Regions from separate parts of the Homo sapiens genome. Here region 2 is linked to region 1. The links come from fine-mapping of genetic effects on gene expression. Tissue or cell type: whole blood. Region 1 holds a variant in brackets; the other region holds the start of a gene. All regions are shown on one strand. Distances are from middle to middle. Region 1 overlaps SLC17A5 (solute carrier family 17 member 5). Region 2 holds the start of SLC17A5 (solute carrier family 17 member 5).

The links.
Region 2: it holds the start of SLC17A5, and the variant in region 1 is fine-mapped to the expression of SLC17A5 in whole blood (TOPMed, PIP above 0.99).

What each region holds. Positions count from the first base shown.
Region 1 is chr6:73,624,019-73,629,548 of GRCh38, reverse strand. The region is part of intron 6 of SLC17A5 (solute carrier family 17 member 5); the gene reads left to right. Among named protein-coding and RNA genes, the nearest start is that of SLC17A5, 27 kb to the left of the region's middle. The variant A/G (reference allele first, on the strand shown) is at 2,232.
Region 2 is chr6:73,651,830-73,656,829 of GRCh38, reverse strand. SLC17A5 (solute carrier family 17 member 5) reads left to right here and starts at 2,838. Exons shown (of 11, transcript NM_012434.5): 1 at 2,838-3,037. The coding sequence starts at 2,944. RefSeq lists an enhancer at 1,634-1,723 and a silencer at 2,723-3,392.

The sequences.
Region 1 (5,530 bases):
TACCAGCTTCGGCCTCCCAAAGTGCTGGGATTACAAGCGTGAGCCACCACACCCGGCTTCTTCTTCTTTTCTTAATTCCAAGGATATCATGGGGTTTTCTTGTTTGGTTGGTTCTGGGTTTGTTTTTTGTTTTTGTTTGTGTGTTGTTTTGTTTTTTGACACAAAGTCTGGTTCTGTTGCCTAGGCTGGAGTGCAGTAGCATGATCTTGGCTCACTGCAGCCTCCCTCTGCCTCCCGGGTTCAAGCCATCCTCCCACCTCAGCCTACCAAGTAGTTGGGACGACAGGTGTGTACCACAAAGCCTGGCTAATTTTTGTATTTTTTGTAGAGACAGGGTTTTGCCATGTTGCCCAGGCTGGTCTTGAACTTGTGAACTCAAGTGATCTGCCTGCCTCAGCCTCCAAAGTGCTGGGATTACAGGCATGAGCCACCATGCCCAGCCTGAAGATAGCATGTTTTGTAACTGTTTTACTTCTCCTTTATGCCTTTTAGGAAGAGTATACAATTTTGCAGCATTGCGAAGCAAATCAAATGGGGACCTTGGTTTGAATATTTAGTTGTCAAATTAAGACAGAAATTAAGAGCATTTTTTACATGTAACTTTGCTAAATCAATTTGCTGTTACTTGCATTTGACAAGAAAAATTTTTTTTAAATGGCATATTAGAATATATTCAAGTATTTGTCGAGTGATCTTACCCTCTATATTTCACACATTTCATGACAAATAATTTTTATAGTTTGTCCTTTTCTGTTTCAACTTATATGGAAAAAAAGTTGATTGAGCTATTATTAGAAATTCGATGATACATTCTGAATACAAGATTCAGGATCTCATTGATTTTTCCTTCACAAATTCCATTATCATTTAAATCTCCAAAGTATATTTGCTTTCAAAATGTTGGCTGAGCAAATGATCTGAGCAATTTTAAATTTTTTTGCCTGTATGTATTTTCCTTTTTGGGGGGTGGGGGTGGGGAGGACAGAGTCTCCCTCTGTTCCCCAAGCTGGAGAGCAGTGGCACTATCTCAGCTCATTGCAACCTCTGCTTCCCGGGTTCAAGCGATTCTCATGCCTCAGCCTCCCGAGTAGCTGGGATTACATGCACGCATCACCATTCCCGGCTAATTGTTTATATTTTTAGTAGAGCCAGGGTTTCACTGTGTTGGCCAAGTTGGTCTCGAACTCCTGGCCTCAAGTGATCCGCCTGCCTTGGCCTCCAAAGTGCTGGGATTACAGGTGTGAGCCACCACGCCCAGCCACGCATATGTATTTTCTTTTATCAGCAGTGGTATTTTAGAATAATGTAGCCCTCTAATAGGAACTTTCAGGACCAGGTGCAGTGACTTATGCCTGTAATCCGATCACTTTGGGAGGCCTAGGTGGAAGGATCACTTGAACCCAGGGGTTAGAGACCTGCCTGGGCAACATAGGGAGACCCCATTTCTACAAAAAATTTAAAAATTACCCGGTGTGGTGGCACATGCCTGTAGTCTCAGCTACTCAGGAGGCTGAGGTGAGAGGATCACTAGAGCCCAGGAGGTTGAGGTTGCAGTAGCCGTGATCGCGCCTCTGCACTCCAGCCTGTGCGACAGAGCGAAACCCTGTCTCAAAAAAAAAAAAAAAAGTGGCAGGCACAGTGGCTCACGCCTGTAATCCCAGCACTTTTGAGGCAGGTGGATCGCCTGAGGTTAGGAGTTCTAGACAAGCCTGGCCAACGTGGTGAAACCCTGTCTCTACTAAAAATACAAAAATTAGCCGGGTGTGGTAGCAGGTGCCTATAATCCCAGCTTCTCAGGAGGCTGAGTCAGGAGAATTGCTCGAACCTGGGAGGCAGAGGCTGCAGTGAGTTGAGATCGTGCCACTGCACTCCAGCCTGGGCAACAGAGTGAGATTCCTTCTCAAAAAAAAAAAAAAATGCTTTCATAATTTTTAATTTTTTGCCAACAATTAGATATGATGAAGCCATCGAGAGTATGTGTTTACATTGCTTGATTGGCAAGATAGTAGTGTGTTAGAAACAATAGCAAGAGAATAATTTCTAGATCCAGAACATCAAAAAAAGCTGTTTTGTACCTTCTTAAGCCCAACCTTGTGTTGTCCAGTATGGTAGCCACTAGCTCCACGTGGCTGTTATATTTTTAATTTAACTAATTTAATTAAAAATTTAGTTTTGGCCAGGCACGGTCGCTCACACCTGTAATCCCAGTACTTTGGGAGGCTGAGGCACGC[A/G]GATCACGAGGTCAACAGATAGAGACCATCCTGGCCAACATGGTGAAATCCCATCTCTACTAAAAATACAAAAATTAGCCAGGCATAGTGGCACGCGCCTGTAGTCCCAGCTACTCAGGAAGCTGAGGCAAGAGAATCACTTGAACCTGGGAGGTGGAGGTTGCAGTGAGCCGAGATCACGACACTGCACTCCAGCCTGGCGACAGAGCGAGACTCCGTCTCAAGAAAAAAAAAAAAATTAGTTCTGGCCAGGCGTGGTGGCTCACGCCTGTAATCCCAGCACTTTGGGAGGCCAAAGTGAGTGGATCACCTGAGGTCACGAGTTCAAGACCAGCCTGGTCAACTTAGTGAAACCCCCATCTCTACCAAAATACAAAAATTAGCCAGGCATGACAGTGAGTGCTTATAATCCCAGCTACTCGGGAGGCTGAGGTGGGAGAATCACTTGAACCCAGGAGGCGGAGGTTGTAGTGAGCCGAGATCGCTCCACTGAACTCCAGCCTGGGCAACAGAGCAAGACTCCATCTAAAAATAAAAAAATTTAGTTATTCAGTCACACATATGTCACACATATGACAAGGGTTTTGTTTCACTTCATTTTCTTTCATCAACCTGTTAGAAGGACAAGATTTAATAACCACATGTAACTACTGGTTACCCTGTGGACAATGTGCATATAAAACATTTCCATCATCATGGAAAGTTCTACTGGACAGCACTACCTTAAACTCTTGAAGGATTTTTTTATAAATGTCTGCTAGATACGCGGATAGTTTCTCCTAGTAACATTTGAAAATTCATCTTTAACTTGAAAGTTTTTATAAATGAAGACTTTCCCCCTGAAATATAACTTGTAATGTGGAAATACTATAAGTTGATCTTACAATTCATATTGGGAGAACAGAAAACTGTTGTGTTGTACCTAGATTACAAATGAACACTAAGCTGGAATACATACATTTCACATTCTTCTTTCTAAGCCTCTAACCCTGTGAGCCTTGTATTCGTTTGATAAGCAGCTATTGAGAACCTGCCATGTGAAGGGCTTATGTGTTAGACATACAGCTCATCTTGGTTGGGTGATTGTTCAAAAACATCAGATTATCAAAAACTCAATTGATATTTATAGGTTGTGAAAACATACCAGTGTGACTAAAATTAAATATTTCTTATTTCAGGTTATGTTTCCAAGAGGTAGGGTACATTCTTCAGAATACATTCAGTTTTCAGAGATCAAATACATTTACACTTGTACCTTTCAGCATAAAAGAATGATTTCACTTCCTTTGTGGATTTCAAAGCCATATAAAAAGAGCTATGTTCCAAATTCCTTCAAACTCTAAAATCCTCTCTGCCCTGAGCTTTTCAATCAAGAAGGATAAGGGCAGACTTTTTAAAATCTGATCTCTACAGCAGTGGGTCCCAAACTTGCTGCACATTGAAATCACCCAGGGATCTTCAAAAACTAGGGATACTTACCTCCCACCCACCCACAACCTATTCAATTGGTCTGTGGTGTGACCTTGGTCTCAGTGTTTTTAAGGCTCCCCTGGGTGATTCTTATATGCAGCAAAGTTTGGGAACCCACTGCTCTATAGAATCACCAGTGAAGCCTTTTAAAACTTAGATTCCTTGGCCCTACACTCAGAGTTTTTTTGCCTTACTTGTTTTTGTTTTGTTTATTCAATAGGCAGAGAGTAGAACACAGGCCCCTATAATTGTAAAGTATAGCTGGAGTTGAAAACCACTGCTGTAAAAGAATCAATGTTCTCTCTCCTTCTCTTTCCCTATATCTGTACATCTTTGATCATATTAAAAAATACAACCAAGCGCAATGGCTCACTGGCTCACGCTTGTAATCCCAGCACTTTGGGAGACCGAGGCTAGCGGATCACCTGAGGTCAAGAGTTCACCACCAGCCTGGCCAATATGGTGAAACCCCATCTCTACTAAAAATACAAAAATCAGCCAGGGGTGGTGGCGGGTGCCTATAATCCCAGCTACTCGGGAGGCTGAGGCAGGAGAATCGTTTGAACCTCAGAGGCAGAGGTTGCAGTGAGCCAAGATCGCGCCACTGCACTCCATCCTGGACAACAGAGCAAGACTCCATCTCATAAATAAATAATAATTTTTTAAAATTTGTAATTAAAAAACACAAGAGCATATCTACAAAGATGTCAAGTAAAAAGTCCATATGAAAAAGGCCAGAAGAAGGTTGGGCAATACTGGTTCTTCCTCTTTTTAAAATAACAGCAACTGTGAACTCTGAAGGCAGAAACATAGATTGCTCTTGCTTTTGAGAAAAACAACAGTCTTAGCGTATAGAAAATATAAAAATCTGATGCCCTAAATATCAGTGGTATCCAAGCTTTCTTGATCATGCAAGAATCAATAAACAGGTGGGAGGCTCACAATCTGAATGTATATATATATATTGTTTTCTTTTGAGACAGAGTGTTGCTCTGTCGCCAAGCTGGAGTGCAGTGATGTGATCTTAGCTCACTGCAACCTCCGCTCCCTGAGTTCAAGCGATTCTCCTGCCTCAGCCTCCCAAGTAGCTGGGACTACAGGTCGCGCCACCACATCCAGCTAATTTTTGTATTTTTAGTAGAGACGGGGTTTCACCATGTTGGCCAGGATGGTCTTGATCTCTTGACCTCATGATCCGCCTGCCTCGGCCTCCCAAAGTGCTGGGATTACTGGCATGAGCCACCACGCCTGGCCGTATATTTATTCTTAAGTTATCTATATGTACTATGATACTTATGTATATCATAAAATATATACAGAAATAGACTTTTTAAAGGATTGATAGATGAAATAAACAGAATATACATAAAATTTACATCTTAATAGAAAAAAACTTCTTTGCTATAACTTAAAAATTACAAATAATTTGTTGTTTTTATTTTTTGAGACAGAGTCTCGCTCTGTCGCCCAGGCGGGAGTGCAGTAGCGTGATCTCAGCTCTCTGCAACCTCCACCTCCCGGGTTCAAGCAATTCTCATGCCTCAGACTCTTAACCAGCTGGAATTACTGCTGCGCACCACCACACCCGGCTAATTTTTGTATTTTTAGTAGAGACAGGGTTTCACCATGTTGCCCAGGTTGGTCTCGAACTGTTGGCCTCCAGTTATCTGCCCGCCTCGGCCTCCCAAAGTGCTGGAATTACAGGTGTGAGCCACCATGCCCAGCCATAATTTGTTGATATAATAATATTTAAAGGGAGCAATGTGTTTGACTATGTTATAGTTAATGATCTGCCATTATTTTGCTTGGCGAAGTAGTTGACAAAGGAC
Region 2 (5,000 bases), 28 kb before region 1:
CCCCTTAAGTGAAGGCTGCACATACTGATTTCCTTCCAAAGAGAAAAGTAAGGCCGGGGGAAAAGAGTTAACTTCACAGTGAAAACACCTGACAAACACAACCTCAGGCATGCAATGAGGCTTACCATCACTACTGATAAACATCAGTGATAAATAAGTTGACAGCACATTCCCTTGACATTACATGATGAGAATGGCCCTTTACCTCTATGACCTTTCCCTCAAAAATCCATAACCCCAGTCTAATTATAAGAAAAACATTCAGGCCGGGGGTGGTGGTTCATGCCTGTAATCCCAGCACTTTGGGAGGCTGAGGCAGGTGGAGGCTGAGGCAGGAGGTCAGGAGATGGAGACCATCCTGGCTAACATGGTGAAACCCCATCTCTACTAAAAATACAAAAAATTAGCCGGGCGTGGTGGCATGCACCTATAGTCCCAGCTACTCGGGACGTTGAGGCAGGAGAATCGCTTGAACCTGGGAGGTGGAGGCTGCAGTGAGCCGAGATCGTGCCACTGCACTCTAGCCTGGACGACAGAGCGTGACCTCGTCTCAAAAAAAAATTCGACAACCCAAATTAAGACACTTTCTACAAAACCTACCAGTACTCTACAAAACTGTCAAGGTCAGCAAAAGCAATGAAAGTCAGGAACTGTCGATCTAGAGGAGCCTAAGGAGACATGTAATGTGGCATCCTGGATGAGATCCTGGGACCGAAAAAGGATATTAGGTAAAAATTAAAGAAACGCAAATTAAGTATGAACTTCAGTTAATAATTATCTATACTGGCTCGTTAGTTATGATATATGCATGATACTAATGTAAGATCTTAATAATAGGTCAAACTAAGCAAAGGGTATGGAGAACTCACTGTACTATCTTTGCAACGTTTATGTAAACCTAAAATTTCTAAAATAAAAAATATTAAAAAAAAGAATTCCTCTGGTTTGAAGTCTTTCAAGTCTGTTGCAACTATATTCCCTGGCCCAAGTTATCTATAACCTTGGTCATCTGGGAGCTTGTTAGCAATACAGAATCTCAGGCACATCCCAGATGTACTGGGCTTCTCAGAGAAACAGCCCCAATTGGGTAGTTTGGGTAATAAAGTTTTGGCTTTCACAATATAGGCTGGCCAACTCGACCCAAAACAGATGATGGTGCACATGCCTGGAGACCCAGGAGGACCTGTGGTGCAGATGAAGTCTGAGGACACTCTGCTGGAGAAGTCTCCCTTGCTTGGGCAAGAGAAGTGGGGGAGTCGGATTTTTTATTCTAGATAGGCCTTCAACTGATTGAAGGAAGCCCACCCAGATTATGGAAGGCAGCCATCTTTACCCAGAGTTCAATGATTTTAGTGTTAACCTCATCCAAAGACAACCAGCAAGTTAACACATAAAATTAACCATCACACCAGATCTGCTGAATCTGAATCTACATTTTAAAAGGATTTGCCAGGTGACTCTGCATAATCCAGTTTGAAAATTGCATTTTTCTACAACCCTTAGAGAGTGTAAAAATCTACATGGTAATTCAGTAACTCAGAAACAAGGCTTGATTTGCTGCTTTAACTTGAGAACTTTTCTAGCATTTACTGATCTGGAGGTAGGGATGCCTACAGAAATCCTCGCCCTCCCTTCTAGGTAAAGGACCCTCCCCTTTGTTCTCACGTGAACCTCACTAAGCTTCTAACCTGGTTTACTGAATTAGTGGCTTGTGGGTCTTCCCTGTCTACACCAAACTCTCCGAGAGCATCTACATCTTATTTTCTACCTCCACAGAGACAGCCTTTATTGGCGGATCCAGATCTGCCCTGCCAAGGCAAGCTGGGTTTTCCTAGTTTCACTTTCAGAGTCCGCAAATGCTAGCACAATCTATCCAAATTCTATCGTGGAGATAAAGCATGCACACATACATCAGAGGATTCCATAGGTCGAACCATATGAAACTACCTATGTTGATTACTTTTACCTATAAAACCAGCAACATCATAGGACTCAACAAATTTCCATTGCTGTTTTTCCGCCTAAAAGCTATTTTAGGACCAGGAGCAGTGGCTCACGCCTGTAATCCCAGCACTTTGGGAGGCCGAGGAGGATTGCTTGAGCCCAGGAGTTCGAAACCAGCTTGGGCAATATAATAAGACCAAGCCTCTACAAAAATAAAAAGTAGAAACAAAATTAGCCAGATGTGGTGGCATGCTCCTGTAGTCCCAGCTACTTGGGGGAGCTGAAGAGAATCGCTTGAGTCCAGGAGTTGGAGGTTGCAGTGAGCTGCGATTGCGCCACTGCATTCCAGCTTGGGCAACAGAGCAAGACCCTGCCTGGGAGAAAAAAAAAAAAAAAAAAAAGCTATTTTAGGGACAATATGCCGCCACAGTCACGAGGTAAATATGCCGCCACAGTCACGAGGTAGATCGTACAAAGGTTGCTAACAGTATGGCAACTGACCGCTAACAAGCGAATGTCAAGTTGTGAAATGCACACCACCCACTTCCCTAGTTCGGTCGAAGCCCTCCCCTTAATTATGTGCAATTCAAGTCCCCACTGCCCGCCCGCAAGCCCCCACTCATCCTCGCTGCGGGCAGGGTGGCCCCTGCACTTTACAAGGGGGTGCAGGAGCGGGAGACGGTCGTCCGAACACCGGCTCCCCGGCATGCGTAGACCGGCGGGCGGAGCGGGCTCACTTTGCGCCAATCCTACGAGAACTCCCAGAACTCCGCTTCCCTAGTCCAACCCAAGCCAGAGTTGCCCACACCTAAGATGGCGGCGGGGGCGGAGTCGGCGCGGCCGCCTCTGGGCGGGACCGCGGGGACTAGACGTGGCCGCGGGGCGGTGTCATCGCCCCCGCCCCGCCCGGTCCAGCCAGCTCGGCCCGGGGGCTTCGGGCTGTCGGGCCGGCGCTCCCTTCTCTGCCAGGTGGCGAGTACACCTGCTCACGTAGGCGTCATGAGGTCTCCGGTTCGAGACCTGGCCCGGAACGATGGCGAGGAGAGCACGGACCGCACGCCTCTTCTACCGGGCGCCCCACGGGCCGAAGCCGGTAAGCGGCGGGGTCGTCCAGGGGCTTCGAGTGGGCAGCGGTACCGGGGGCGGCGGTCTCTGGGCCGGCATGGCCCGGGTACCCGCACCCTGCGCCGGCGGGACCGGAGCTGCTCAGGCGCGAGGGGACATTAAGAGGGGAGCCCGTTCAGAGTGCCGCTCAGTCCCGCCTGCCTCGGTGCGCAGAAGCCCCTCGGGAACCCCGGGGGCCGCGACCGTGATCGCGGAGCCGAGCCGGGGCCTCGGCAGGTGCAGCCCCACCGGGCGGGGGCGGGGGCGGGGGCGGGGGCGGGGGAGCGGCGGTGCAGCCGGCGCTGAGCTGGTGGTTATTTTGGGTAGTGCTGAGCAAGGGACCCAGTGGAAGAACGAACTGGGAGAGAATCATCAAATGAATGGGCTAAGGTCCGAGCGGAGGACCCCGGTGTAAGAGCAAACTGGAGGAGAAACCTGCAGATCAGTAGGCAGAGGGCTGTCCTTCCCTGTCACCGCTAGGTTTCCGCCACTGCGTATCCGCCAGCATGTGACCTGGTAGCTTCTTAGGCGGGGAGGGAAGACAAAAAAGGACTGGAGTTAACATTTGTGAGTATGCAGAGGGCAACTATTGTATAACCCAGCTGATATCTTGACATTGTGCAGTAAGAGACTAAAAACATCGAGGACATTTTTTTTCCGTCTGGCAGTCTATGATTTAAGTTAGGAAAAGGTTCAGTTATCCTCAAGATACCTATGGAGTTCTAAAGTAATTTGCCAAAGGTCTTGGAACAAATCGAAAAGCAGGTACGTCATAAAGCATCTTCCCTGAATTTGAGAAAATTAAAATATTTTGCTATTTGACACTTTTGTAATATAGTTTATTTAAAAGTAACGAAAACTAAAGAACAAATCAGTTTGAATGCATTCTATAGTTTCAAAGATCTGTGCGTGAGAAAGAGTTGTGTTGGAAATTTGACTTTGGCTAACCCAGAATTGTATAGTTTCTATATTTTTATTTGTTTTTAATGTTACCAGATGGTGGCAGTAGAGGTGGCAACCTTATAGCTCCATCTGGCAGCCGGGAGCTTATTTTAGTCAACACAAACTGTAAATACCATACCATAGTTACGTTTTACCTGGAAGTCGGACTTAGTTCCATAAACTGATCATTTTCTGTGGCTTGTAGTGTTCAAATTGTATAATATTCCTCATAAAATAATATAGAAATACAGAAATAAAAGTTATAATAAAGATATTTGCCAGAGATTATTACATTGTTACAATTGAAAAATATGTATATGTATAATCAAAATTTAGCACAAATGTTAAACATTATTCTCAGGAAAATGCAGATTAAAATTACAACGAGGCACTATACACCCACTAGAATAGCTAAAATCCAAAAGGCTGATAATACCAAATGTTAGCAGAGATGTGGATAGAAAAGTTATACATCTCAATAAAGATTGAGATGGACAAATGTATACATTTATCACGTAAATTATACTTCAATAAAGTTGATTTTTAAAAAAGTAGCTTATAGCATCCCTTTTAAAAACAATCCCTACTTGATTCATGTGTTGAGTGTATGGATCTTATGGTACTGGCCCTGTCCTTCCTGGCTTTAGGTGGCTACGTTTGTTACAACCATTTCCTTTTTTATTTTCCCTCTTTACATACCCACTGGAGAGCAAGTGAAGTGGAAATAATAGTAACATACTGTTTTTGCTATTTAGAATATGATAAGTTTTATAGAGAAGGAGCATATATGGCAATTAAGAGAAGTATATAATGAGCCCCCATGTAACCAGCACCCAGATTAAAGTTATCAATTCATGGCCAGTCTTGCCTTATGCTCATACATACTGTGTATTTTGAAGCAAATCCCAGATACCATGTCATTTCATATGTAAATATTTCAATTATTTACCTCTAAAAGATAAGGACTCTTTTTAACATAACTACAGTACTATTATCACAGCAAATAAAAA